Homo sapiens: one gene and its partners. The protein of the gene in region 1 purifies or fractionates together with the protein of each later gene. This does not show direct contact. Each region holds a gene or a part of one and is shown in the gene's direction. Other genes may lie near its edges.

Region 1 (4,219 bases):
TCTCCAGTTTGGCAATCCCCACCATTCTTTGTTGTCTCACATGCAGCCCGTGTTCCTCATTGATCTTAACTGGCAGCTCCCTGCTATATAGCATTTCTTCTTAGTTTTCGTTAGCACTCTTACCTGGACCCTTGTACTAGCCTTCCAACCTGGGTTTGCTCTTGCTCTTTGGTTTCACTGCTAGGAATAGAAACTGGAAATAGCATAGTTTCACTAAGTCAGAAATTGTTGGGATTTTCTTCTTAGCACATAAAAATATATGGAGATTGACAATCCATTGTTGGTATGGTAGGCTTACTGCCATCAGGGACCCATTCTTCTTCTATATTTCCATCCTACTATGTCGGTGTGTAGCTTGCATCCTCATGGTTACCCCCCATCATGTTCCAAGATGGCTGCTGAAGCTCCAGTCATCACACCTGCATTCCAGGCAAGAGGTAAGGGAGCTAGAAAAAAGGGCAAAAAAGATCTAGCCAGCTGTTTCCCTCCTCACCCTCTTCTTGGAGAGCTTTTTTCAATGTCCCACCAAAAAAACTCCCTCTTCCATCTTAGTAGCCACCAATAGCTGTGGGAAAGGTGGGAAATGTAGTCTTTTAGCTGGATGTAGTCCTGATACCAAAGAAAAAGGGGTGAATGGACATTGATTGGGCCACATTCACCTCATTTAGCATCTCCATACAACAGCAAGAGCAATATTTTAAAAATTAAAAATAGATGACCGATTTGTTTCCTGTTGGGACTCATAAAAAATGAAAAATAAAAGTAGATCACCTCATTCCTGGCTGAAGCCAGCAAAGGCTTCCAACCACTGAGAATGACATTCCTCATTGTCCTCTTGACTTGCAAAGCCCCACATGATCTGGCCCCTGCCTATTTCTCCTGCCTCATCATCTCCCATCACTCTCACTCACTGGGCTTCAGCCTCTGGCCTCCTGTCTGATTACCTCAGTGATTAAAGGTCCTCACTTTAGCCACATCATCTCTACAACTTACTTGTTATGTGACCATGAGAAAGTTTCTTAACTTCTCTGCACTTTGGAGGATGATATGTTATAGGGTAGCTGTAACAATTAAATGAGAAAATACATATAAAGCTCTTAAAACAGATTCTGGCATTTAGTAAGGGCCATATAAGTACTAACCATTAATATCCATAGTTGTTCAAACACCAAGAACTGTCCTACCTCAGGGCCTCTGTACTTTGTGTTCACTCTGTCTAGGATGTTCTTCTCCCAGATTTTCCTGGGACTTTCATGTCACTCAAATCTCTGCTCAAATTTTTGCTCTTCAGAGAGGCCTTAAAATAGTACTACTCCATCAACCTTAATTCTCCTTCCCTGCTTCATTTTTTATGACATCTTCACTATCTGAAATTATATACTTATTTATCATCTTCCTATTTCTTCTAGAACTTTAGATCCTGGACAACACATCTGTATTCCAGCCCTAAGAGCACTTCCTGGCATGTTGTAAATGCCAGATAAATAAATTTAGATGGATGGATAGATGGATGGATGGATGGACTGATGTGTGGATGAGTATACAAAGGGATGAAATACAGAGATGGGTGGATGAATGGATGGATTTGTAGATAGACTGATCAACAAATTGATGGATGGTTGGGTGAATTAAGGTATAGATAAATGGACATGCAGATGGATGAATATTTGGATGGATGAAGTAGATGAATGGATGGAGGATGCATAGATGGATGGATGGGTGGTTGAATAGATGGAGTGGATGGAAGAATGGATGGATAGTTAAATGGATGATTGAACAGATGGTGTAGATGGATGGTGGTTGGATGGATGGATGGATGGATGGATGGATGGATGGATGGATGGATGGTTGGAGTGGATGGATAGATGGATAGATGGATCAGTGAATGGTTGAATGGGTGGTTGAACAGATGGAGTAGATGGATGGAGGATGAATGGATGGATGGTTGAATTGATGGAGTGGATGGATGGACAGATGGAAGGATGGATGGATGGATGGATGGATGGATGGATGGATGGATGGTTGAATTGATGGAGTGGATGGATGGACGGATGGATGGATGGATGGATGGATGGATGGTTTGAATGGATGGTTGAATAGATGGAGTAGATGGATGGATAAATGAAGGTGTTGACAGATGGAGGGAAGGTTGAATGGATGGATGGTATGACAAGGAACCATTCTAACTCTGTCCCTCTCACTTTTGTTTTTTAGGCCACTCCCCACCTGTCCTGCCTTTGTGTGCCTCTGTGTCTTTGCTGGGTGGCCTGACCTTTGGTTATGAACTGGCAGTCATATCAGGTGCCCTGCTGCCACTGCAGCTTGACTTTGGGCTAAGCTGCTTGGAGCAGGAGTTCCTGGTGGGCAGCCTGCTCCTGGGGGCTCTCCTCGCCTCCCTGGTTGGTGGCTTCCTCATTGACTGCTATGGCAGGAAGCAAGCCATCCTCGGGAGCAACTTGGTGCTGCTGGCAGGCAGCCTGACCCTGGGCCTGGCTGGTTCCCTGGCCTGGCTGGTCCTGGGCCGCGCTGTGGTTGGCTTCGCCATTTCCCTCTCCTCCATGGCTTGCTGTATCTACGTGTCAGAGCTGGTGGGGCCACGGCAGCGGGGAGTGCTGGTGTCCCTCTATGAGGCAGGCATCACCGTGGGCATCCTGCTCTCCTATGCCCTCAACTATGCACTGGCTGGTACCCCCTGGGGATGGAGGCACATGTTCGGCTGGGCCACTGCACCTGCTGTCCTGCAATCCCTCAGCCTCCTCTTCCTCCCTGCTGGTACAGATGAGACTGCAACACACAAGGACCTCATCCCACTCCAGGGAGGTGAGGCCCCCAAGCTGGGCCCGGGGAGGCCACGGTACTCCTTTCTGGACCTCTTCAGGGCACGCGATAACATGCGAGGCCGGACCACAGTGGGCCTGGGGCTGGTGCTCTTCCAGCAACTAACAGGGCAGCCCAACGTGCTGTGCTATGCCTCCACCATCTTCAGCTCCGTTGGTTTCCATGGGGGATCCTCAGCCGTGCTGGCCTCTGTGGGGCTTGGCGCAGTGAAGGTGGCAGCTACCCTGACCGCCATGGGGCTGGTGGACCGTGCAGGCCGCAGGGCTCTGTTGCTAGCTGGCTGTGCCCTCATGGCCCTGTCCGTCAGTGGCATAGGCCTCGTCAGCTTTGCCGTGCCCATGGACTCAGGCCCAAGCTGTCTGGCTGTGCCCAATGCCACCGGGCAGACAGGCCTCCCTGGAGACTCTGGCCTGCTGCAGGACTCCTCTCTACCTCCCATTCCAAGGACCAATGAGGACCAAAGGGAGCCAATCTTGTCCACTGCTAAGAAAACCAAGCCCCATCCCAGATCTGGAGACCCCTCAGCCCCTCCTCGGCTGGCCCTGAGCTCTGCCCTCCCTGGGCCCCCTCTGCCCGCTCGGGGGCATGCACTGCTGCGCTGGACCGCACTGCTGTGCCTGATGGTCTTTGTCAGTGCCTTCTCCTTTGGGTTTGGGCCAGGTAAGTGGAGTTTTCTTGCAGGTGACTCTGGAGACTTCTACCCCTCCTAGGGGGAAGTTTGGGGACTTCCCACCCTGATGACCTGGCAGGGTGTCAGTGGGGCACTAGAGGTGGGTTGACCATGAAGCCTCAGGGCCCCTCACTTACCTGCAGTTGCTCCTCCCAGGGCCAGTGCCTAATTTTATGTTTGTAATTTGTATTCCTTAAAAGCCTCCCCAAGTCATTTGAGCTTCAGGTCCCTTAAAGCCCGGATAGCTCACAACTGGAAGGAATTTAATGAATAGCGTGAAAACCAATCATCCCAGTTCGTCCAAGACTGTTCCCATCTCGGCATTGAAAGTCTCATGTCTCAGAAAACCTCTCAGTCTTCAGCAAACTGAGACTCTACTGTAATTCTTATAGCAGAATGGGAGTGGGAGTTTAGTATCAGGAGCCTGACACTAGAAAATCCCATTGTTGAGAGGCTGCATGTTTGACCTGATGGTGCCAGGCCCCAGGTCCCACCACAGCCCAGGAGCCCTCCTGCTCTCCCACCCTAGTGACCTGGCTTGTCCTCAGCGAGATCTACCCTGTGGAGATACGAGGAAGAGCCTTCGCCTTCTGCAACAGCTTCAACTGGGCGGCCAACCTCTTCATCAGCCTCTCCTTCCTCGATCTCATTGGTGAGTCCTTCCCAGACAAGTCCGTTTTTTTTCTGTGGCCCAAGCTCCCTACTCTAAAG
Region 2 (4,219 bases), on another chromosome or scaffold:
GCTGGAACCACAGGTGTGTGCAACCATACCTGGCTACTGGCTAATTTTTAATTAATTAATTAATTAATCTACTTTTTGGGGATAGGGTTTCACTACATTGCCTATGCTGGTCTTGAACTCCTGGGCTCAAGCAGTCCTCCCACCACGGACTCTCAAAATGCTGGAATTACCTGCAGGAGCCACCTTGTCTGGCCCTCTTTGCACTTCTTAGAAAAGTGACTGAGAGATCCTGTCCTTTGACTCCTGTGAAGAAGCAACCCTTCCCTCACCCCTTCAGAAACTACCTGGAGCCCCTCTTTCCTGGGGCTGGTATTCTCTGTCCTTATACAGTTTTAAAGAAAAACTTACTACAGTGTCAGCTTTTGACCAGTAGACTATTTTGCCATTTCTTTAATAGTAACACAAGCAAATGAACCATCTCCTCTTGACTATGCTCTTCCCACCGACCTCTTTATCACGTGAAATACCAAGCTCACTGATTCAATCAGTGGGAGATAAAGGGGAAGCCTTTATCAGGCAGGATAAGTTGGTGGGGATAAACTGATCAGAGGACTTGCGGGGACCATCGTGCTTGTGGAGTGCACAGATATCCTCTGTAATAGCTCTGACCAGGTTCTGCAAGTTCCCAGAACTGGAAACCAAAGGAGGTTTCAGCTCATAAAAGGTGCCTGGAAGAACTAAGGAAACGGGGGGTTAGACCCTCTTGTAACATCAAATAGTGCGGGGGAAGGAGGTGAGAAAACAGCTGGGAGCACCAGGTCTTGTTGGAAGGGAAGTCCTGAGCCCCTTTTCCAGCATAGACTGAAGTTTGTCACTCTAGCCAGTCTGCCATGATGTCCTCATGGAAAATTGTTCTTCTTTGACCCACAGAAAGTAAATATTTGGGTGGGGACTGGTGGTGAAAAGCACTTTCTCTCTAACCCCTACTAGAGCCTAGACACAAGGAACTTCCTGTTGGGCACAGCAAAGTTTAGTAGCTAATTATTTCTTTCATTTCAACTTAATCAAAAAGTCTTTCACAACAAGAACTTCTACTTTCTGTTTTCCCACAATGTGTAGGTCAGTGCATAAAGCAAGCCCTCAATAATACTTGCTGGTTGACTGGTGATCCATTAGCGGAGGGCAGTTTCTGGGCAATTTTCCCAAACATCAGTCCTGCTGCTTTGAAGTGGGAGGTTTTGCCAAGGGGACCAGGTTATTTTAAGAAAATGGGGAATTATTTATCTGTTAACTAGTTATTGAGAACAAGCCAAACTCTAGGCTAGGCCGGACACTGGAGAATATACAAAAGTCCAAGTTGGAGTCAGCAAACCTAGGAGGGTTCAGGCTTTTTTTTTTTTTTCTTTTTTTCTTGAGTCTCACTCTGTCGCCCAGGCTGGGGCACAGTGGCGCCATCTCAGCTCACTGCAGCCTCTGCCTCAGCTCACTGCAGCCTCTGCCTCCCGGGTTCAACCAATTCTCCTGCTCCAGCCTCCCGAGTAACTGGGACTACAGGTGTGCACCACCATGCCCAGGTTTTTTGTTTTGTTTTGTTTAGAGACGGGAGTCTCTCTCTGTTGCCCAGGCTAGAGTGCAGTGGTGTGATCTCCGCTCACTGCAACCTCCGCTTCCCAGGTCGAAGTAATTCTCCTGCCTCAGCCTCCCGAGTAGCTGGGATTACGGGTGCCAGACACCAAACCCAGCTAATTTTTGTATTTTAGTAGAGATGGTGTTTCACCATGTTAGCCAGGTTGGTCTTGAACTCCCGACCTCAGGTGATCTGCCTACCTCAGCCTCCCAAAGTGTTGGGATTACAGGCGTGAGTCACTGCACCTGGCCTGAGCCTCACTTTCTATGGTGAAAATCTTTGTGTCTTTTTTTCCTATGTGGTAAGATCATCAGATCATCTAATCTTTTTTTTTTCTTTTTCTTTTTTTTTTTTGAGACAAGGTCTTACTCTGGCCCATGCTAAGTGCAGTGGTGCAATTGTGGCTCACTGCAGCCTCGACCTCTCAGACTCAAGTGATTCTCCCATCTCAGCCTCCTGAGTAGCTGGGATTATAGGCACTTACCACCACACCCAGCTAATTTATCATTATTATTATTTGTAGAGGTGGGGGTCTTACTATGTTGCCTAGGTTAGTCTTGAACTTCTGGCCTCAAGCGGTCCTCCTGCCTCAGCCTCCCAAAATGCTGGAGTTACAGGTGTGAGCCACCACACCCGGCCTGTGCTTTCTTTTAATAGTACTTACCATATAATCAATGCTTAATGCACATTTGAGTTAAAGTAACTTAATGCTAGGAACGATGTAAGACAGTTAACTGAGTAAGTAGGGGCCGAACAAATGATGGAGGTCATGAGTGCTGTAGAATTGAAGGAAGAGAGGTTATTGGACTATCACAGGCTTGATGGGCCTCAGAGAGAGCGTTTCAGGCAGGGAAAGCTGTGTAAACAAAGACAGGGAAGCAGGCAAGGACAAGATTGTACAAGAAATAGTGAAAAAGACTGGCCCACATGGAGTAGTATTGGAGAACTTTTAAGTAGGAAGTTGTGAAGGGACAGGGTGAATGTTTTAGGAGGACTTGAAGCCAGTCATGAGTTTGTAAAATACAAGATCAAAACGACAAGGAGAGGGCGGGGCACAGTGGCTTATGCGCTGTAATCCCAGCACTTTCTTGGGAGGCCAAGACGGGTGGATCACTTGAGGTCAGGTGTTCAAGACCAGACTGTCCAACATGGTGAAACCCAGTCTGTACTAGAAATACAAAAACTAGCTGGGCGTGGTGGTGTACACCTATAGTCCTAGCTACTCAGGAAGCTGAGGTAGAAGGATCACTTGAACCCAGGAGGCAGAGGTTGCAGTGAGCCAAGATAGTGCCACTGCACTCTAGCCTGGGTGACACAATGCAAGACTGTCTAAAAAAAAATTAAAAAAAAAAAGGCAACTAGGAGGATGTGTCAGGCGTGTGGGGTAAATGAGAGAAGGAACTAGAAACAGGGATGACATCAACTAGGAAACAGTAGGAGGTGATGAGTGTTTACAATAGGGCTGTGGCAGTAGAATTGGGCACAGCCTGAAAGAGGTTTGAATGGAGGCTCGTTATATAGTCATCAGTAAGGGATGAGGAGGACTGATGTCCAAGTTGACTTCCAGTCTTTCAAGCCACCTTCTGCTGAGTTGTAGTAGCACTGGTTATTAGCGTATAGAATTCTGTGGCATGTGAATGCATCCTGGCTCCTAACCAAGATGTCAGGAAAGTGCCTAGAACCCAAGGCCTGGGTACAGAGAACCCTTTGGAGCTGGGCTTTCCTAGCTGTTTGACTGTGGGCGAGTTACTAAATGATTGAGTCTTTTTCCCATTGGCGGGGGGAAGTAACCTTTACTGTGGCAGTACAAAGATTAAATTGATAGCATGAGAATGTGCTTAGGATGCAGCAGGTGAACAGCAAATTCCAGCTCTCCCTTTCATCAAGGACTCCCCTCTTTCCCTTTCCCTTCTGCCATCCTCAGCCATTTGACTTTTTTTGTTTTGTTTTTGTTTTTGTTTTTAGATGGAGTCTTGCTCTGTCTCCAAGGCTGGAATACAGTGGCACGATGTCAGCTCACTTGCAACCTCCACCTCCCAGGTTCAAGTGATTCTCCTACCTCAACCTCCCGAGTAGCTGGGATTACAGATGTGTGCAACCATGCCCAGCTAATTTTTTAATAGAGATGGAGTTTCACCATGTTGGCCAGGCTGATCTCAAACTCCTGACCTCAAGCCATCCAGCCGTCTCGGGCTCCCAAAGTACTGGGATTACAGGCGTGAGACACCATGCCTGGTCAAGCATTTGACTTTCTACTGAGCTGCTCTTTCCAGCTACAGCTTGGCTATCACAATTCTAGGTGTCTCTGAGAGACATGACCCCCCTCACAAAAAAAAAAAGGAAAAAAAGAACCTGCCGGGTGCAGTGGCTCATGCTTATAGTCCCAGCCCTTTGTGGGGCTGAGGCAGGAGGATCTCATTGAGGCCAGGAGTTGGAGGATACAGTGAGGCATGTTTACACCACTGCACTCCAGCCTGCAGGGACAGAGTGAGACCTTGTCTCCAAAAACAAACAAGCAAAGTTCCTTTTCCAGCAGATCTCTTTGTTTCTTTGCTCAGAACCTGGTTACGTACCCACCTGAACACCAAATACTGGCAAGGGGGGAAGGGAGAGGTGACTATCATGATGAGTAGGCCAGTCAGTATTTATCCC
Region 3 (4,122 bases), on another chromosome or scaffold:
CATTAAATAATGTAACGTAGGTGTAGATTCCCAAATGCATTTGGATGTACAGATCGACTACAGAGTACTTTTTTCTTATGATGATTGGTGTAGAAATGTGTGATTTGGGTGGGCTTTTACATCTTGCCTACCATTGCATGAAACATTGGGGTTTCTTCAAAATGTGTGTGTCATACTTCTTTTGGGAGGGGGGTTGTTTTCTTCTGTTTATTTTCTGAGACTCCTACAGGAGCCAAATTTGTAATTTAGAGACACTTAATTTTGTTAATCCTGTCTGGGACACTTAAGTAACATCTAAAGCATTATTGCTTTAGAATGTTCAAATAAAATTTCCTGACCAAATTGTTTTGTGGAAATAGATGTGTTTGCAATTTGAAGATATCTTTCTGTCCAGAAGGCAAAATTACCGAATGCCATTTTTAAAAGTATGCTATAAACTATGCTACTCTCATACAGGGGACCCGTATTTTAAAATCTCCAGACTTGCTTACATCTAGATTATCCAGCACAATCATAAAGTGAATGACAAACCCTTTGAATGAAATTGTGGCACAAAATCTGTTCAGGTTGGTGTACCGTGTAAAGTGGGGATGGGGTAAAAGTGGTTAACGTACTGTTGGATCAACAAATAAAGGTTACAGTTTTGTAAGAGAAGTGATTTGAATACATTTTTCTGGAACTATTCATAATATGAAGTTTTCCTAGAACCACTGAGTTTCTAGTTTAATAGTTTGCTATGCAAATGACCACCTAAAACAATACTTTATATTGTTATTTTTAGAAAGACTCAAAACACCTGTATTTAAACCTTAATATGAAAATCATGCAATTAATAGTTACACAAGATGTTTTCATTACAAAATATGTACCTATCTATTGATGGACTCTACATCCTATATTGTGACATGTAAGTCCTTTAAAAGGTGAAAAGTATGATTTCTTACCACTTAAGTATGATTGATATGATCCAACAAATTTGATCAGAAGCTGTAGGTAAATCCTCTTCTGAAGCCAAAATGGTATATTAAATATAATTTATTGGTACTTCCATTTTCTCTTCCTTCTTACTTGCCTTTAAGATCTTATAAAAAAGAAACTAAAAGTTAATATTTAGTTGCCTATATTATGTAACCTTTTAACTATATATAAAGTACTTTTTTGGTTTCTTTCTCACCACTTTTATTCAAAAGTACTTTTAACATACCAATACATAGTCTGTCTGATGGGAGTATAAATTGGACAGTAAGGTTTTGTCTTAATAAAATGAAATTTGTTTCTCATGATATGAATCTTGCAGGTAAGATGTAGGGTTTATTGAAAATGTGTGGGTTAAATGCTTTCAGGTACACCAATTCTTTCTACTAAATTGAGCTCTATTTGAAGTTCTTTGGAATCTGTGGTGAAAAATAATTTTCTGATTTCCAAATACATTAAGAGCATTAAATGAATATTAATCACCTTTAAAGTCTTTTAGAAAAGGACTTGTATTGGTTTTTGGCTGCATAGAGGGGTTGAATAAGTGTATGTATGTGTGTGCGTGTGTGTGTGTCTTCTTAAAGAAGATGTAATTCACAAATAGTTTAGCTCCCTAGCGCTCAGTTGTAGAATAGAAAATAGAACATTATTCAAGTTAATTGAAAGGTGAGGTTTTTATACCCCCACTAATGCTGTGTATCTGTCTTTCGTTTGTTAACATTATTTGCTTAATTTCTTTCAACTCACACTTTGGATAATACTATCAAAAACTAAGGCTAAACATTCCTTGTGTATCTTTAAGCATGCTTCTCCTGAAATTTAACTACATTAGTAGTTGACATTTGTATACATATATCCTAATACAAGAGTAGGATAAGGTGGAAATGTAATGGCCTGAGGGATGGTGAAGCATTCTTTTAGTATTTTTCATCATGTTGGGCTCCTAGATTGTACTGGGGTTGCCCATAAATCAAACCCCATACTCTTAGAATTCATTATATTATGGTGATATCCGAACCTAGTGAATGGTATGCTTGGGTGTTTTCCATTGAGAGTGGATGGACCTCTTTATAAAGTTGGTTGCTGCAAAATCCAGTTCTTCCAAAAGCCACTTTATTTAGGGTTTATTCACAAGTCATATCCATTTTGGTACAGTGTTTGTTTCCTAATATTTATTAACCACCTTATACCAAATGTCTTGCAAAGAAATGTTATTAAAACCTTGAATTTTTACAAATGTAAAAAACAAAAAGTGTATTAATGTATTTGTTCAGGAAAAGCTACATACCGAAGGGCTTTTGTATATGAATTCTGTGGTGGGGAGACCCATTTGTAATCTATATGGCAGTTCCATCTGGGTTTTAAGTTTAGATTTCACCGTGTCTTAGTGCTTCATTCTATTGGTTTATTGGAACATGTAATAAATAGGAGTAGTGATGTATTAAAACACAAGTATTCATTAATGTTTTATATCTTCACTAAAATTCTATAGTTATGAAACTATCAATCAAGGTGTTATATTTCAGTCAGAAGTGAAAATTTATGAAGAGTATTTGGAAGTGTGTACAGAAATAAACTAGACTTACAGGTAGGCTAGATCAGAACGTTAACATATGAACCTGCAGAAATCTGGTAAGACTTAAATTCAGTGTGAGGAATAACTCTAGTTCTCTCCTATGAGCATTTCCTAAAAGCCATCTGATTTGGCATTCTTACTGGAGCTGCAGACAGAAATCTACAAAGACAAAAGTAAACAAAATTAAGTTATTATTCCACTGTTAGGAATGGAAATAAACTTGTGAAGTCTGTTTATTTTGAAGTATTGGTGAACTAGGCTTGCTAATTGATAACTGCAGCAGTTTGTGTTTACTCCAGTTCATCAGCTTAGGTCATTTGAAAGATATAAGAGCTTAAGGCAAGAAAGAAATAACATGGAATTCTATTTGAAGGACAACAGAACATTCTTGGAAAAGCAGCTCCAGTTGGTTTTTCAACTGTCAAACTTGAATGTGTAAGTCCCCACAGAGCATGGACAGTCGGTGCAGAGTTCCAAGGAAACAATTATTGCCTGATGACCACTTCCATTTTGTATACACTCTTTGGTTCGTATAGGCCATATTCCAACTGGCTTTTTAGTAATAGAAATCCAGTATATAATGTATCAAATACAATTGAGGTTCTAACCTAGTGTGTTAATTTATCTGAATTTGGATTTTTAAAAAGTAATAAAAAGTTAAATGTACTTCCTTTGGATTCCTTATTTCTTTCCTTTTTGAAACATGAACCAAGCATAAGGGATAACCCATTATTGACAGGCAAATGAATAACTTAGTAATAGTTTTCCACAATTAAAGCAGGGGTCTGCAGACTTTTTCTGTGAAGGTCTAGATAGTAAATACTTTCAGCTTTGAGGGCTATGCAGTCTCTGTTGAAACTATCGTTGTAGCACCAAAGCAGCCATAGTAGACTACATAAACTAATGAGCATGGCTATGTTCCAGTATAACTTCACAAAAATGGCCCACAGGCCATAGTCCGCTAACCCCTGGAATGATGTATTTAAAATTTAAGGTTTAAATTTGTATTTCAAAAGTGAACTGTAATATACAGTAAAGTTGAGAGAATGGTCCAGTGAATAAGATTGGTCTTTCTTAAGAATGATTTTTCTTTTATTGCCATTCTTTTGACTTTTTTGTATACCTATTCTGACTCTTACACTCAGACTTTACCATCTATTTGCCTGCCATCCTCTGATTGATGATTCTTTGCATTTGTTTAGCATTTACTACTTTTTCAAAGCAGTTTCACTTGTTCCTTCACAACCATCCTGTGAAGCTGGTAGAGTAGATAGCTGTGTTTTATGGATAAGAAACCACAGCTAAAGGTGCTCTTATGTTTAGCCCAGAAGTCATCAAGATTCAGGGCCCTGTTGTCTTGACTATTGTAACTGTAAAATGGGGGTGTCACCCTCTCTAGCCTGGGAGGCAGGTAATATATGTAGAAGTCACATTGAAAATTAGTGTTCTATACGAATGGAAGAGATTATTTTTATTGTGCCACATTGAAATCAGTGGTTAATTTCTCCATGTCTATTTGTATGTTTTGTTTTTCCGTTTCTGACTAGTTTTTAAAAATCCTGACCAACCTC
Region 4 (4,219 bases), on another chromosome or scaffold:
TTTTAAAGATGTGAAATATTCCATTGTTTGAATACATTGTAATTTTTTAAAACAAATTATATTGTTGAGCATTTGAGTTGTTTCTAGTATTTTATTATTATAAACAAATCATCAAATAACATACTTCTAAATACCTCTTTGTATGTGCATCTGTTTATTTCCTTAGGTTAGGATATAGTCCTAAAAATAGAATTGCTGGGTCAAAGTGTACAAATATACCAAGATATTGTAATAGTTACTTTGTTTATTGATAACATAAATAATACACGTTTATTGAAGGAAACTCAGAAAACAGAGAAAATTATAGGAAAACATAAATTCATCCATAAATTCTTTACCCAAGTATAGCCATTGTTAACATTTAGGCAGAGACTCTTTTAGTACTTTTCTGGACATAGATAGCTGTGGCATAATTATATTATACATAGTAATGTGTAACATGCTTTTCCAATATAGCATCAATGCTTTAAGATGTCATTTGATGTTCTTCCACAAATGATTCGATGGATACATGGTAGGCCATTGTATGACTACAATGTAGTTGATTCACTTTTCCATTAAATATGAGTATTTAAGTTGCTCCTATTTTTTCACCTATAAGGATCTAGAAGAAGGCGCATCCTTATATTGACTATCCTTGTAAATAACTATTTATGGACATTTTCTAATATTTAAGAAAATTCCTAGAAGATGGGCCAAAACTACCTGTGTATAAATGCATGTATGTCTGTGTATATATGTGTACATGCATATACATATATATGCATGAACATGTGTATGCATGTGTGTGTGTCTCCAAACTGACTTCCAAAAAATATGTCCCAAACTCCATTTCCACCAACAATGTATGAAAGCGACTATTCCTCTGAGCCTTACTAACAATACAATGATTTTTTAAAAGTGTTTGCCAATGGTCGAGGGAAGGGCAATATTCTGAAGAATATCCACCTTAAAGAGATTCTAAAAATTCATTGAAGTGAAAGCGAGTCAAGACTTTTTAAATATTATTGCTAAAACTTTAAAACTGCTTCTTAGATCATAAAGACAAGAGAAATTTTATCTGAATAAAACCATCAAAATATTTATAAAATAATAAAATAAAATTTTACACATATTAGGAAGGCCAAAAATTGGAACTATGTAGTCTCCATTAATAAGTTTCTATTATGTACTTTATAAGTCTAAAAAAAGCATTATATACACAAATACTCTCACTCTTTGAGTTATTTTAGTGTACCAGTTAATTTTGCCATAAAATATATACCAGAGAGCTGCCCTTCTGAAGCTCAGTTGACTTAACTTTTGATTGGAGATTACGAAATGATGGCAACATCGGTGAGGAAGGCTGATGCTCAGTTCAGTTCTCACTGAGGATTGGTGTTCCCAAGTTTGTATGTTTCATTGGGAGCAGTTGAAGCTCTCACATTACAAAAGATGCTGCCAGTTCTGTACTGCACACACATGGTTTTGGAACAGATCTGGCGTCAGCTCAATAACCTCATTTAGGCTAAATGGAATACTTTTTGTTATCCTTGTCTGAAATATTTCAAGCATATGAGAAAAGTGCATCATGCTTTTTTTTCTAGCCTGTGAGTAATATTTTGGCAATGCAGCCTCTAGGAGTTCTCATCCACAGGCTCCATATAAGGGCCACCAGAGGGAGTTCACTGGGGGCAGTGCCTTTCTTTCATACTATAGAGTGAGCTTCGTCATATGTGACGTTTGTATCATTTTAAACGTCATCATAGTAATACATTTGAAGTACGGAGTCAAAATTATATTTTCTGACCTTAACGTAAAATGTAACTCCAGGATTGAGTATTAGTAGTTAGGGATATTAATGTGACAACCACAATGCAAACTAAACAGGATTGCACTCAGTAGTAACCAAAATTACTTAATTTCTGCAAATACAATCAGGACTTTGAGCTTCACAAACTTCACAGCTACCCAAGTTGCTTTCTCTCAAGATTGAGACATGGGGAAGAAAGGGGACAAAATTTAGAATTCCACATTGTCTTTCTGGGGACAGAGTTGTAGTGGGGCGTGGAAGGAGAAAGTTTGAGAAACATCCAGTCGCTTTTCCTTTATCGATCTACCTCTTCCTACTCGCTAGTCTATTCTTCAGGGTCTGAGGAAAACCACTTGGAAGGATTGGAACCTTTGGAATGTTTCTCTGACCACACCCTCCTTCTTCCCATTTTCTCACCGTGTTACGTAGGATTTCCAGCTGTTCCCTTCCCTAAAAGAGTTTCCCTCTACTCAAACTCCAAAGTATATATTTTCTTCTCTCCAAGATTTGGCTTTTCCTTGTCAGCATTTGGATTATGCTTACTTAGCACTTCCCAAAGTATGTACTGCAGAATTCTAGTTGCATGGGGATCTTAGTAGATATTACCAGAAAAATAGCAGGGGAGAGATTCTGTGGCTAAATCAGTTTGTGCAATAATACTAAATACAAAATGATCTGTTTTGGATTTTGTTTTTAATTATGGAACTTTTCAGAGACTTTTTTTTTTTTAAAGAGATGAGATCCAGGCTGGGGTAGAACTCCTGGCTTGAACTCATGAGTTCATGAGTTCAAGTGATCCTCCCACCTCAGCTTTCCGAGTAGCTGGGATTACAGGGTTTTCAGAGGCTTTTATATGATAATGTCCTCTATGTAGTTTCCCAACTCTCTGTGACTATGGATTCTTCTGTGGGGTTCCTAAGAGTAGGGATATATGTCTTTCCTTTACTGTTTGGCACACAGTGAGCACTCAAATATTCTCAAATGGAATAAATGAAAATATTATCATATAAGCTCTCACATGACTAGTATCCTCTGGCAAATGCTGGGACACATTGCATTACCACAGCTTCTCTCCCATAAACGAGCCTAACTTCCACCAATAACATCTCTACATTCCCACTTAGGGTGAAAATTTTCCCTTGGTTCCTTTTCTGCCTACCCTGTGGAAGGGAAGAGTTTATATGTGTATGTATATATATTTGTACTTAGGAATGCAATCTCCGTAGTTTAAAGGCAGAGAAACAGTGGAATTGACAGGAAGTACAACCGGAATTTTAGAGATCATTTCTAGTTTGGGCTGCCAAGGTGTTCTTCGTAGCGCTAGTAGGATTTAAGCTGAATTTTGATGTTCTGGTGGGAGTTCAGCAGCAGAGACAAGTGAGAAACTAAAAGCAGGCAAAAAGGAAAGGCACCAAGTCAGAAAAGCAGAGTGGGGACAAGAAAATTAGTTTGTAGGGGAAGTTTATATGAACAGGCTAGCTAGATATCACTGAGGAAAACCCTTACGGAGGAAAAGGAAAAATAGCCATGATAGGCATTATGAAGGAGAAATTACCCCATGACTTTTTGGATACAGATGGCAAAAGAAAGAGTTAACTCAACCATCCACTTGGATATATGAAAGATATTGCAGCAATCCAGGAAAGAGAAGATAAGGATCAGATAGGAAACGTGATTTCAGGATAGAGAAGAGAGGGCACAGTAGAGAAAATAGTTTGGAGGTAAAGTAGTCAAGATTTGACGATTGCTTGACTATGAGGAAGGGTGAGTTAAAGTTATGGGTCTAGGATACCCCAGCTAGCCTTCACCTCAATTGATATTGGAAATAGGTGGGAAGTAGCCAGGTTAGAAGGGAAGGTCGTAAGTTCAGTGTCAGATGTGTTGATGGCTTGTCAGACATCTAGGAAGAGATGACTAGTAGGCACTTGCATAAGTATGTCTGAAGCACAAGGTTAGAGCTTGTAATAAAGATTTAGGAGTTGAGTGGAAACATCGGTGAGATAATCATCATTAAGTGTGTGTGTGTAATGTATTCTTACCTGCATGGATGTGTATGTATACTCAAGCACATGTAGTTTTGATCTTGAAATTTTTGTCGTATGTCAGTTTGTTCATTATATTCTTAGATTAGTATGCTGAGCTATTATCCCATTGTCAATAAAAATGTCAATAAAGAATAGATTTTAGGTTGGGCGAGGTGGCTCATGCCTGTAATCCCAGCATTTTGGAAGGCTGAGGTGGGCGGATCACCTGAGGTCAGGAGTTCGAGAGCAGCCTGGCTAACATGGTGAAACCCCGCCTCTACTAAAAATACAAAAATTAGCCGGGGGTAGTGGCACATGCCTGTAATCCCAGCTACTCTGGAGGCTGAGGCAGGAGAATTGCTTGAACCCAGGAGGCGGAGGTTGTAGTGAGTCAAGATCGCGC
Region 5 (4,219 bases), on another chromosome or scaffold:
GGGCGGCGGGTGAGGACCAGGGAAGGGCTGGCAGGCGTGGGGTTGGGCCTTGCTGGGGAAGTGTGGTTTTCCCCAGCTTAGCCAGGCCTTGGGGCTGGTTGGATGGGGTGTGCTGAGGGATGGAGTGAGCCTGGCCTGCCTGGACACTGCCCAACGCAGCATCCCCCCGGGGTGGGAAGCCAGCAGGCCCTGAGGTGACTCAGCCCCAGCCCCCTCCTCTGGGCCCCACCTGGAAGGAGCCAGGGCTGGGCTCAGGGGTCAAGAGCACACCAGGGGTAGACTGGGGGGTTCCTGGGCAGTGAGGGCTGAGAGGCTGTGGAATGTGGGTACCCAGTGCTGGGTAGTACAGGGCATGTCCCGGGGGTCCCACCTGTCTGAGCATGTCTGTGAGTGACGGTCTCCGTGGGCTGCACTAGGCGGAGCAGGGGGCCAGCCCTGTGGTCTCTTTGCTTGGCTGACAGCATCGCCTGTCGCCATGGCTGGGGTACAAGGGCCAGGTGGCCCGGGGGCAGAGGGGGCATAGTGGCCATGGTCTGAGGCTGTGCTGGGCAGTCCCAGGACCTCTTGGCCTCAGTTTCCCCAACTGTACCGCAAGGGCCCCTCCTGCCACCTGTTCTGTGTGAGGGTGGAGGTAGGTGTGGGTTTGCCTGTGTGCTGTATGCCTGCAGGACCTGAGCTCCGGCCTGTTGGGGCCTCTGGCTGGGCGCCCTGTACTTGGCCACCCCGTGCACTTGGTGGAGGCCGCCAGCGTGGTGATGGGGCCCCACGTTCTCCCCCGTGGTCACCCCCAGTGAGGCACCAAGGGGCGTTCCACAGGAAACGCTCGGGTCCCGGCTGCCCATGGGGCCCCTGTCTGTGGCCACTCCAGCCAGGCTGCCCTTTGCCCACCTCTCCCCCCGGTCGCTCTTCCTGTGCTCCGTGCTGACTTGAGCCAGCTCAGGGCAGGCTGGGCCTCTGGCACCCCAACGGTAGGGAGCCCAGGCCCCTGAGCCCGCGTGGCCTGGAGGGGCAGTCTCCCTCCCTTGAGCTGGGTCATTTTTGGGTCTGCAGAGGATGTGGCCTGAGGATGAGGAGGGTGGTGGGTCCCTGGCTGGGGAGGAAGGGCCAGAGCCTGGCAGACCCAGGGGCAGCGTCTGAGCCCTGGGCCTTGTCCCACCCTGAACGAGGCAGGCAGGTGTGGCCTCAGGTACCTGACCCGCCTCCCCATGTCTGCAGCGCTCCTTTACCCTCATCGTGGAGGCCTGGGACTGGGACAACGATACCACCCCGAATGGTGAGTGAGCCCTGGGCCAGGTGGCAGCTCCTCTCAGCTTCAGCGTGCCTGTGGCAGGGCCCAGCTCCTCTGTCTGCTTGGGACAAAGCCTTGCTTTACCCTGAGGATCATGTGTGCTGTTTCCCTTTTTGCTTTGGCTGCCAGGAAGCTCTGCCACGTTTGGGACTTGCAGAGCTGTGCATGCACTCTCTTCCCCAGTCCTGGCTTTGCCTATGTTGTTCTCCTCTTGGGTGTGCTCTTTTGGGGCCCATGGCAGTGACTTAGTGGAGGGGACACCCTTGAGTGTGTCTCTGGCTTTGTGGCCCCCTCTGCTTGTCTGTACTGGAGCATGGAGCCTTGGTGGCCCTCTCCCTGAGGCAGGGGCTCTGCAGGGCCCTGCAGGGGTAACGGGATGACTTCCATGGGTGAATGCAGAAGCACCCACAGGCCAAGGGAGCAGCTCGTGTGAAGGTCTGGGCAGGAGCGGGCTGGCTGTGCAGGGGGAGCAGCCGGGGCTGGGCTCAGATCATGGAGGCTGGCAAGCCACTGAGAGGACACGGGCTCCGCCTGGCAAGCTGTGGCTGCCTTATGGAGGGTGGGCTGTGGGGCCAGGACACAGACCGAGGAGGAGCTGCCACGTGAATCTGGGCGTGTCAGGGTGACTTGGACCAGGGGCAGTCTGGGGGTGAGAGGGGCTCTCAGAAGTGGAGGCATGGGGTTGGCCAATGGGTTGGAGGAGGGAGAGCGGGGCCAGGGCATCCTGGCTGCCAGCAGAGTGGAGGGGCTGTTTTCAGGGCAGGGACGGCGGTGGGGGTGCCCAGGTGGGGAGCAGCAGTTGTGGGGACCCCAGCGGCTCAGGGCAGGGGTGTTTCCTGAGGGGGTGGCAGAGAGACAGGTGGGCTGAGTCCCAAGCAAGGTCGTCAGGGCTCTTGACAACGTGAGCCTGGAGAGGCTGGGGCGGCCGGGACGCCCCTTGGGGAGTGGGCCAGCACAGTGTCCTCCCAGGCCTTGGCCCGAGGCGGGAGAGGTGGGGTCTGGAGGACCCGTTCACCTTTTATTGTGCAAAACGTCGAGCCTGTGCCTAAGCGCAGGGACCGGCATCACGGACTTTGCATACCAGCGCCAGCAGCTGTGGTGCCCCTGGCCCCTGGTCTCCTGGTGGCTTACTTAAAGTGAGGCTTAGACAGCGGGTCACGGGACCTATGCCTGTCTTGGGGGCCTGAGGGGAGGCTTGTCTTAAGGTGGGGACGGTAGTGGTGTTTGGCACTTCTGGGAGCAAGTCACAGCGCAGGAGAGGGGAGGGCAACTGAGCACCATGTCCGTGCTGTCGAGGGCTGGACACGGCGCAGGTGGGTGCAGGTGTTGGAGCAGGGCTGCAGGTGGGTGGGCACAGGTGTGGGACGTGAGACTCACGCCCTGGCAGCAGCCGTGCCTTCTCTGTGGAGCCTGTGGTCTCAGCAGCCCTCCCTGCAGGGCCCCTAGCCCCTAGCCGGGCCCCCCGACCCTCTGCGTTTAGGGTGGGAGCGGGGCGCAGGCTTGGTGGCGGGAGGGAGAGGCCTCTCGGGGCCCTGAGCTTTCTGTAGCAGCCTGGCCGGGGGCCCTGCCCTCCGTGTGCTGCTGCCTGCTGTGCCCCGGCCTTGCAGCAGCCGCAGGCTTCTGCCCCGTCCCCGTTGTTCCTGGAGGACCCCTGGCCGGGCTGGTTTCTCTGGCCTGTGCTGACTCTGCCGCCTCCCCAAGAGGAGCTGCTGATCGAGCGAGTGTCGCATGCCGGCATGATCAACCCGGAGGACCGCTGGAAGAGCCTGCACTTCAGCGGCCACGTGGCGCACCTGGAGCTGCAGATCCGCGTGCGCTGCGACGAGAACTACTACAGCGCCACTTGCAACAAGTTCTGCCGGCCCCGCAACGACTTTTTCGGCCACTACACCTGCGACCAGTACGGCAACAAGGCCTGCATGGACGGCTGGATGGGCAAGGAGTGCAAGGAAGGTGAGGGGGCCGCTGGGCTGCGTGGAGGGCAGGGAGGGCCTCGGGCAGGGCCCCGGGCACAGGCCTTGCGGCCAGGCTGGCTGCAGCTGTGCCTCTCGCTCCTCTCTGTTCGCAGCTGTGTGTAAACAAGGGTGTAATTTGCTCCACGGGGGATGCACCGTGCCTGGGGAGTGCAGGTGAGTGTGCCGCCGGCCCGTCTTTGCCCTCCCAACCTTTGCCCTCACGTCCTCACTGGCACACACAGCCTTGCTGTCAGGAGTCGCCCGGAGCTGGCTGGAGGTTGGGCACACAGCTGTGAGAGCCGGGCCCTGAGCTCGGGAGGCTCCTTAGTGCAGTAGGTGCGTGTCTGAGCATGGGATGTGTCTGATGGCGGCAGCCATGTGAGGACAGTGAGGAGAGACTGGGGAGGCTGGCTGGACAGTCACGTCACCGAGGGGCAGAGACCCGGAGGCTGCAAGCCACCCAGAGATGGGGCATGGGCAGAGGACACGGTAACCCTGCCCATGGGGAGGGGGTGGGCGGCGAGCGGCCGGCAAGTGACACCAGCAGGCGAGGGGCGGCAGAGCAGACCAGTGGTGGGAGCTGAGGCCTGCAGGACCAGGGACAGAGGAAGGGGCTGCTGGCAGGTTTGTAGCTGGGCAAGGTGGGTGGAAGGGCTGTGGTAGCTGTTGAGTGGGGAAGCACCAGACGGGAGGCTGTGAGGGGGAGGCCGCTGTGGGGCATGTGGGGGTGGTGGGGGAGGGGCCAGCGGGATGGGGAGGGGGTCAGTGGAAGGGGGAGAGGCGCACGGGTCCTGCAGACATCCTGGGGTGGAGCCCAGGGGTTTGTGGATGGATTTGATCAAGCAGGAAGGGTGTGGAGTCAGGGAGAACCCCAAGCTGCTGAGTAGCAGAGCCATGGTGGCAGGAGGAATGCCACAGAGGAGCAGGCGGGGCCGGGGTTAGCTGGATGTGGAGAGGCGATGCCTGCCCTGTCCCT
Region 6 (4,974 bases), on another chromosome or scaffold:
CTCACATATTGCACAGGATATACTTAAACCACAAAATTATTCTTAATCTGGAATTCAAATTTCAGGCCATCCTGTATTTCATCTGGCAACTGTATCCAAGGACAAACAATAACACGGCCCTTACATGATCCTAATCAGCGTGGCCTCAAAGATTGTGTTTAACCAGAATGATACGCTGAAAAGAGCATTTTAGTGTCATTCTGTATGATAGTGAAAAATTGGAGCTAACCCAAATCCTCAATTACGAGAATAATGGTTAAGTAATTATTGCACATTAATCAGGTAGAATAGTATTTAAAGTAATAAACAGATGCATCTCATACTCATCAGGTTGGCAAATATTTAAATATCTGATACTATCAAGGGTCAGGAGAAGATGAAACAATGGAAATTTACATGCCCTGATTAATCCTAGAGCATGATTTCAAATGTTAATTTGTGTATAAATCACCTGGAAATCTTGGTAAAAATGCAGATTTTAATTAAGTAGGTGGAGCACAAGACTCCCCATTTCTAACACACTCCAGGTGACGTTGGTGTCGCTTGTTGCTGGACCACCATTTGAGTAGTGAGGCCCTAAAGGTCTGGTCTTCAAACTCTTTTGCTTGAGTATATACTAAAATAATAAGGTTTAAATACAAGAACTTAGTATCCCCTTATACATATTTAAGGTGATATTTAACATTTTTCATTACTAGTTTAGGTAGTTGGAAGGATTACTTTCTGGAAACATATTTATGTATTTAAATAAACTTGTAATACACTTTTAAATATACCTAGTAGACTTTGCCCTAGTTTGCCTGCCACTGCTGTGAATAGTTTCTGAGGGGGATCCCAGCAGGATTGATCCCCAATGACGCTTATTTGATATTATACTATGTATATTTTACATGAGCTGCAACCATTGAAGGAAACTGGGCAAAGATACCTGTGTGCTGTCTGCACTGCCCTTGCAAGAGAAACCAGTACCTGAAATATCTGTCAATCTCCAATCAAGACACAAGCATGGTAGAAGGAGTCAAAAGCATTCAACTTGGCACCCAGCAGCAGTTCTCTTTGGCTGAGGGAAGTGGCCACAAGACTCAGCTGGGGGCCATCAGCGGCCTACACACCCAACAACTGGAGAAATGAGTCCTCAGTCCTTAAGGGGAAACCTGGGTGGTACAACATGGCATCCCCTACACCCTGACAACCCCATGGGGTATCTGTGGAAGAGGGGCTGGGGAATGTGGTTAGCTCAGTTCAGCTCAAGAAGGCCACTACTTTGGTTCAGGTGGTGCTCTTTAATTTATAGTAGCTGTAGAAGTTCCTCCATTGCTACGCGTGTACCCCATCAGACTTTAATTGTGAAGCAATGAGTTCTTTAAAAAAGTTCAAAAATATTCTTAACCAAGTGGGATTTATTTCAGAAATGCAAAGAAGATTAGTATTAAGATATTCTTCAATATAACTTGGCATTATTGGCCAAAGATGAATGCCCACACCATTTTTCTTAAAAATTGCCAATTCCCCTTTTATGGTATTTGTATACATTGCACTATTATCACCAAGGTATGAGTGTTTTTTTCACCACTTCTCTCTTTACACCTTAATCTACATTTTCTTCTATCACAAGTGGCGTTTAACTTCTTTTAATATGTTTAAGGGCATTTGTCTTTTTTTTTTTTTTTCACTTATGGGGTCTCGCTGTATTGCCCAGGCTGGAGGGCAGTGGCTATTCACAGGCGCGATCCCGCTACCGATCAGCACAGGAGTTTTGCCCTGCCCGGTTTCCGAGCTGGGCCAGTTCCCCACTCCTTGGGGAACCTGGTGGTCCCTGCTCCCGGGAGGTCACCACACCGATGCGGAACACAGATGCGTGTCGCCGCGCAATGGGCACAGCGCATACAGCGCAGAGCTCCCGGGCTCAAGCGCTGCTCCCGCCTCAGCCTCCGGAGTAGCCGGGGCCACAGGCAGGGCATTTGTCATTAATGGGGTCTTTTGAGACCGCGGGTGACAGACAACAGGAGCCAGGCCACGCGCGGCGCCTCTGCGCGAACGCTAGGGAGGACTCAGCGCGCGGCGGCCGGTGACGTCAGGGCAGCGAGAGGTTTCGTCACCGCGGCGCGGGGGCGGGGCCGCCTGTCACGCGGCGCCGGCGGACGCGCGGCGCTGGGCGGAGGCAGCGGCTCGGGGACTGGGCGAGGGCCCTGGGCCTGAGGAGGCGCGGCCGCCACTGCGCCCAGCGCCTGCGCGACGCCTGGCTGCTGGGCCCCGGGGCAGTTCAGCCCGCGCCGCTCCTGCGGGTCGGACTGGGGCTGTGGCGGGAGAGAAGATGCCGCAGCCCGAGTCCCAGAAGGCGGCGATCCTGGGCTGCGGGCAAGGCGGTGAGTACCCTCTAGGCGGCGGCCTCCCGGCGTCCCTCAGCACCTCGAGAGCTGCGGCGGCGGCGGCGCGCGGGGCCTGGGCAGGCTGGGGGCGGCGGCGGGGCAGCGCCTGGCTCCCCGCGGGTCCTGGGCTCCCGCACGCCCCCTGGGCGAGGCTCGTGTCTCCGGGAGACGCCGCTGCCCCCGCGCCTCCCCCAGCGTCTCCTGAGGCTTGTTCGCGGGCGTGGGGGCGAGGACCAGGGCGCTGGCCTCGTTTTCGCGTATTTAGGACGGAGGCACACCTGATCCTGCAGCCTCCCCCAGCATTTCCTAAAATGAAGTCCAGATCAGTATTGTCCACTTTTTAAAATTAAAAGTGCCCAGAAATAGAATAGTTCACACATACACAAAACTAGGGAGAATAGTGTGGAAGGAAATTTAATCTCGGGACCCCAAATCACTAAGCCAAAGTCAAGCTGGGAGCTGCGTCAGGCAAACCTGCCCCTAAGTTTTGTTCCTAAGACAGCTGCAAAGATAAAAAGCCACACAGCTCCCTCACCCTTTGGCCAGGAGGAAATTCGCTGTGGACCTCCACATCTTTACCCTGAAACAGTTGTGTGGAATTGCACCCTGGCAGTGTAAATTGACAGCTTGTCTTCGCAGGTGAGGAACAGGGACAGAACTCAAGTCATCCTTCTGCTCACCTGAGACAGATGCATGTCTGACGGCTTCCTCTGCCCTGTATTTATGTAAAAATGCAGATTCACTGAGCCAGACTAAGGCACAAGTGGCTATTCCTCTGCCTGCCCCATGGCGTAAATTGTGTGTTCAGTAAAAGGCAGAGCAGAGGCTCAAAAGAATGTAGCCGTTTGTCTCTCATCTTACCCATGACCTGGAAGCCGCCACTTTGAGTTGTCCCACCTTTCCTGCCCGAACTAGTCTATACCTGTATTTGATTGAAGACTCATGTTCCCCTACAATGTATAAAACTAGGCTGTGCCCCCACCACCTTGGGTACATGCTCTCAGGATCTCTTGAGGGCAGTGTCATGGGCCATAGACACTCATTTCGCTCAGAATAAATCTCTTTAAAAATTTTTTTATTAGCCGGGTGCGGTGGCTCACGCCTGTAATCCCAGCACTTTGGAAGGCCAAGGCGAGCGGATCACGAGGTCAGGAGATCAAGACCATCCTGGCTAACACGGTGAAATCCCGTCTCTACTAAAAATACAAAAAATAAGCCGGGCGTGGTGGCAGGCGCCTGTAATCCCAGCTACTTGGGAGGCTGAGGCAGGAGAATGGCGTGAATCGAGGAGGCAGAGCTTGCAGTGAGCCGAGATCACGCCACTGCACTCCATCCTGGGTGACAGAGCGAGACTCCATCTCAAAAAAATTTATTTTTAATTTTTGTGGGTACATAGTAGGCATATGTATTTATAGGTACATGAGATATTTGATATGGCATAGAATGCATAATCACATCAGGATAAGCAGGGTATCCATCTTCTCAAGCATTTATCCTTTGTTAGTGCTACAAACAACCTGCAAGGCTCTTGTATTGGTTTGAACCCCGATGACGCACCAACAACCCCCACGACATGAGGCGGTGTGGAGCAACATGCTGTTTTAATAAGCGCCTGGGTGCAGACGGGTTTATGCCTAAATGGCATCAGCCCCAAGTGAGGAATGGGTTTTATAATAGCATCAGCCCCAAGTGAGGAAGGGGTTTTATAGTCCTCTGTAAGCAGGAAGTGTCCCAGTCTGACGTGGCTGCTGCGTAAATGTGTCCGGAATTGGTTCCTTCCAGTGGATTCTTGGTCTCGCTGACTTCAAGAATGAAGCCACGGACTGTCGCGGTGAGTGTTACAGTTCTTAAAGATGGTATGTCGAGAGTTTGTTCCTTCTGATGTTCAGATGTGTCCAGAGTTTCTTCCTTCTGGTGGGTTCGTGGTCTTGCTGACTTCAGGGATGAAGCCGCAGACCTTTGCAGTGAGTGTTACAGCTCTTAAAGGTGGCACGTCTGGAGTTGTTTTTTCCTCCCAGTGGGTTCATGAGCTCACTGACTTCAGGAGTCAACCTGCAGACCTTCGCAGTGAGTGTTACAGGTCTTAAAGGTGGCATGTCGAGAGTTGTTTGTTCCTCGCAGTAGGTTTGTGGTCTCACTGACTTCAGGAGTGAAGCCACAGACCTTCACAGTCAGTGTTACAGCTCATAAAGTTAGTGCAGACCCAAAGAGTGAGCAGCAGCAAGATTTATTGCAAAGAATGAAAGAGCAAAGCTTCCACAGCATGGAAGGGGACCCGAGCAGGTTGCCGCTGCTGGCTCCAGTGGCCTGCTTTTATTCCCTTATTTGGCCCCACCCACATCCTGCTGATTGGTCCATTTTACAGAGAGCTGATTAGTCCATTTTAGAGTGCTGATTGCTCTGTTTTACAGAGTGCTGATTGGTCTGTTTTACAGAGTGCTAATTGGTCGGTTTTTACAGAGTGCTGATTGGTGCGTTTACAAACCTTTAGCTAGACACAGAGCGCTGATTGGTGCATTTACAATCCTTTAGCTAGACAGAAAAGTTCTCCAAGTCTGCTACCCAGTTAGCTAGTCACAGAGCACTGATTGGTGCATTTACAATC
Region 7 (3,500 bases), on another chromosome or scaffold:
CCTGGGTGACAGAGCAAGACCCTGTCTCAAAGAAAAAAGGTCAAGACATAAACGCATGTTAGTTTAGGCCTACACAGAGTCAAGATTATCAATAACGCTTCCACTTCCGCATCTTGTCCCACTGGAAAGTCTTCAGGGGCAATAACACACATGGAGCTGTCATCTCTGACAACAATGCCTTCTTCTGGAATACCTCCTGAAGGACCTGCCTGATGCTGTTTACAGTTAACTTTTTTTTAATAAGCAGAAAGAGTACACTCTAAAATAACAATTAAAAGTGTAGTGTAGTGAATACATAAACCAATGACAGAGTCATTTATCATTATCAAGTATTATGTAGTGTACATAATTATATGTGCTATACTTTTATACAACTGGCAGTACAGTAGGTTTGCTTACACCAGTGTTACCATAAACACATGAGTATGACATTAGGATAGCTGTGATAGCAGTGATACCACTAGGCAACAGGACTTTTTCAGCTCCATTATAATCTTATGAGACCACCATTTTATCTGTGGCCCATTGTTGACTGCAACGTCTTTATGTAGCACGTAATCGTGTAAGTAAAAGTGATTAGAGAGGATGTTTTAGAAAAATAAGAAACACTTCTACCACCCAAACTGGGATTCAAACATTTAAAGCGTTTTACCTAAGGGGTGGGATAGGAGTGACACTTTAAATAACCTTGGATCTGTCCTGGCAGGTGTGAGGGACCCCTGGGATGGGAGGGACAGTTGGTCCTGTTGAAGTGGGTATTTCAGGGAGCCACCCGACTCCTTCACTTCACAGAAGAGGGCCCAAGGAAAGACTCCCAGCTTGGCAGCACTGGTCTTGGATGAGAGATACCCCTAGCAAGATTCACATCAATTCATCCTGCTTTCCTGAACGCTTGCGGGGCCCTGTCTTTTGACCTATTTATTATCGGCAGAGAAAGGAGACTGACATTTGTGAATTCTTTCCCTTCTCTGAGGCCCAGGTTCCTCACTGACAAATATGTGGTTGAGAGGAATAAGTAGGTCCTGTATGGGAAGCTCCTTGCATAGAGCTCAGCATGCAGCAAGTGTGTCATCTTCACTGCCATGGCCAGGAGAATGTGATTAGCTGTGGGCCCAAGGGGGAATTGGTGAGCGTAGTGCTGCTGTTCCTGAGGTTTCTGCCAGCCTGCTGCAGAGCCTCCTTGCTCCAGCTCTCCTGCCCTGCTGCATTCACTGTGCCCACCACCAAGAGCATTCAGGTTTTGTGGAGACTGCACAGGGCTGTCCTCTTAGTAAAGGCAAGACATGGCTGGACTTTTTCAAAAGAGCTTTCTTTACTAGAACTGAAGAATCCCAATCAGAATGGCCAAGGAAAAGTCAGTTGTCTGTGTCCAAGACAAATGTCAAAACAATAAAATGATGAGGTTGGACATTGATTTATGGAAGCAGATGAGGTGTTGTAGGAAAAACGCTGGCCGGGGAGTTAGGTGGTCTTGCCTGAGCCCTGGCATTGCTGCAGCTGACTTTTCTGGGAAGACTTTGGTGAGTCATGGCAGCTCTGAGAGACTCAGTTTCTTTACTTGTCATAAGGGGGTGCTAGCGCTCTCCCTGGGCTCTGTCGGGGGTGGATCCCACAAGCCGATGGACTGGGAAAGGCCTTGTAAATTTTAGTAATGGTTCAGAAGGGAGGCATTTTAATGTTCCCCAGCTACACTGCCTGACACCCACTAAAGGGTGTCAAGGCCTGGCCTTGGACTCCTGCCCTTGTGCAATGCCCCTGCCATTGTGGGTCGTTGGGCAGCAGTGCCAGTCCCAGCTTTTTCCTGAATAGCCTCTGGGTCAGGGGCTGTACCTAGATGGGAGAAGGAGGATGCTCTCTCAGTGAGGGTCCCTGAGACAGAGGGCAGTATTAGGTTCCATGTCATGTCGAAGCTGCAGGGAGGAAACTAAAGCCCAGCAAGCACAGTTTGTAAAGCTCATTGTTTGGGTTTATACAAGAGAGTGAGAGAATAGGGACTCTCCCAGGCTTTGCTCCCCCACTGACTGCATGCCACAATGTGGGGCCCAAGGTTTCAGCTCACAACACATCAATTCTGTCTCACAGTCCGAAAACTCAGACCTGTTCTATGCCGTACCCTGGTCCTGTGGGACGCTGGGTTTCCTGGTGGCCGCTGAGATCCGCATCATCCCTGCCAAGAAGTACGTCAAGCTGCGTTTCGAGCCAGTGCGGGGCCTGGAGGCTATCTGTGCCAAGTTCACCCACGAGTCCCAGCGGCAGGAGAACCACTTCGTGGAAGGGCTGCTCTACTCCCTGGATGAGGCTGTCATTATGACAGGGGTCATGACAGATGAGGCAGAGCCCAGCAAGGTAAGCCAGGGTGTCAGCTGCTGCTGACCAAGACTGGGGAGGCATGAGTGTGCTAGGACTGAGCCGGTTCCCGTATCCTGACCCTGGCAGCCACCTCTTCAAGGCTGCTGCCTGGGTCAACCCACCTGGGGTACAGGCAACAGGATCTATCATCAGAAATGTATTAGACAGTGATGGAAGCTTTCATCTACTCTGCCCCTACCACCTGCCTGGGATGTGCTTGTCTCTTAGTGGATGTAATCTTTGGTCCTTATAGCAAACCCATTTTATAGATGAGGAAACTGAGTCTTCAAGAGGTAATGTAGGCTGGGCACAGTGGCTCACACCTGTAATCCCAACACTTAAAAGAGGTAATGTAAACTTCCACAAGATTCGAGTAATCGATTTGATGCCTTGGAATCTAGATTGACATTCCTTCCACATATACCATGCAATTTTTATTAGCAGTTTTTTCTCCATTTAGAAAGGATTTGTGCTTATTGTAAGAGACTTGGAAAGGATTTGTGCTTATTGTAAGAGACTTGGAAGGTACAAACAAGTAAAAAGGAAAGAAAAGACTCCACCTGTAAATATGTCCCAAAGCCAGTGTTGCTAATGTGTTTGGTACACAGTTGGCCCCTTGTATCTGTGGGTTCCACAACAGTGGATTCAACCAACTGCAGATTGAAAGCGTTCAGGGGCCAAAAAACGGATGGTTTCATCTGAAATGAACATGGACAGACTTTTTTTCTTGTCATTATTCCTTAACTGTTACATAGCATTTACATTGTATTAAGTATTGTGAGAAATCTAGAGATGATTTAAAGTATACAGGAGGATGTGCATAGGGTTATATGCAAATACTAAATCATTTTATGTAAGGGACTTGAGCATTCATGGATTTTGGGGGATCCTGGAACAAATCCCCCATGGATACTGAGAGACAACTGTATTTATTTCCTCTTTCTCTGTATGGATTTTTTTGAAAGTTTTTAAATTATAAAAGTAATGTAACAATGCTGAAATATATAAAGAAAAAGTTAAAGTGCATCTCTTTACGCCAGGGTGTAACCACTTACGTATAACAGTTTTGTGTGCATTCTTCGAGACCTATTTATTTTTATTTATTTATTTTCTTATTGTTTTTTTTTTTGAGACAGGGTCTCTGTAGCCCA

Evidence for each region.
Region 2: the proteins of SLC2A10 (region 1) and RNF122 purify together in Homo sapiens (affinity purification with mass spectrometry; one large-scale study listed by BioGRID and IntAct). This does not show direct contact.
Region 3: the proteins of SLC2A10 (region 1) and TM9SF3 purify together in Homo sapiens (affinity purification with mass spectrometry; one large-scale study listed by BioGRID and IntAct). This does not show direct contact.
Region 4: the proteins of SLC2A10 (region 1) and ENPEP purify together in Homo sapiens (affinity purification with mass spectrometry; one large-scale study listed by BioGRID and IntAct). This does not show direct contact.
Region 5: the proteins of SLC2A10 (region 1) and JAG2 purify together in Homo sapiens (affinity purification with mass spectrometry; one large-scale study listed by BioGRID and IntAct). This does not show direct contact.
Region 6: the proteins of SLC2A10 (region 1) and GALNT11 purify together in Homo sapiens (affinity purification with mass spectrometry; one large-scale study listed by BioGRID and IntAct). This does not show direct contact.
Region 7: the proteins of SLC2A10 (region 1) and DHCR24 purify together in Homo sapiens (affinity purification with mass spectrometry; one large-scale study listed by BioGRID and IntAct). This does not show direct contact.

What each region holds. Positions count from the first base shown.
Region 1 is NC_000020.11:46,722,827-46,727,045, forward strand, and holds part of SLC2A10 (solute carrier family 2, facilitated glucose transporter member 10), read left to right. Parts: intron 1-2,214; coding exon 2,215-3,498; intron 3,499-3,988; coding exon of another isoform or gene 3,989-4,037; coding exon 4,038-4,160; intron 4,161-4,219. UniProt on the Homo sapiens protein: Facilitative glucose transporter required for the development of the cardiovascular system.
Region 2 is NC_000008.11:33,560,241-33,564,459, reverse strand, and holds part of RNF122 (RING finger protein 122), read left to right. Parts: intron 1-4,219. UniProt on the Homo sapiens protein: May induce necrosis and apoptosis. May play a role in cell viability.
Region 3 is NC_000010.11:96,517,205-96,521,326, reverse strand, and holds the end of TM9SF3 (transmembrane 9 superfamily member 3 precursor), read left to right. Parts: 3' UTR 1-3,217; downstream 3,218-4,122.
Region 4 is NC_000004.12:110,478,749-110,482,967, forward strand, and holds part of ENPEP (glutamyl aminopeptidase), read left to right. Parts: intron 1-4,219. UniProt on the Homo sapiens protein: Regulates central hypertension through its calcium-modulated preference to cleave N-terminal acidic residues from peptides such as angiotensin II.
Region 5 is NC_000014.9:105,154,760-105,158,978, reverse strand, and holds part of JAG2 (protein jagged-2 isoform a precursor), read left to right. Parts: intron 1-1,215; coding exon 1,216-1,273; intron 1,274-2,989; coding exon 2,990-3,241; intron 3,242-3,356; coding exon 3,357-3,417; intron 3,418-4,219. UniProt on the Homo sapiens protein: Putative Notch ligand involved in the mediation of Notch signaling. Involved in limb development.
Region 6 is NC_000007.14:152,023,519-152,028,492, forward strand, and holds the start of GALNT11 (polypeptide N-acetylgalactosaminyltransferase 11), read left to right. Parts: upstream 1-2,155; 5' UTR 2,156-2,314; coding exon of another isoform or gene 2,315-2,366; intron 2,367-3,451; exon of another isoform or gene 3,452-3,516; intron 3,517-4,078; exon of another isoform or gene 4,079-4,200; intron 4,201-4,974. UniProt on the Homo sapiens protein: Polypeptide N-acetylgalactosaminyltransferase that catalyzes the initiation of protein O-linked glycosylation and is involved in left/right asymmetry by mediating O-glycosylation of NOTCH1.
Region 7 is NC_000001.11:54,870,196-54,873,695, reverse strand, and holds part of DHCR24 (delta(24)-sterol reductase precursor), read left to right. Parts: intron 1-2,082; coding exon 2,083-2,346; intron 2,347-3,500. UniProt on the Homo sapiens protein: Catalyzes the reduction of the delta-24 double bond of sterol intermediates during cholesterol biosynthesis.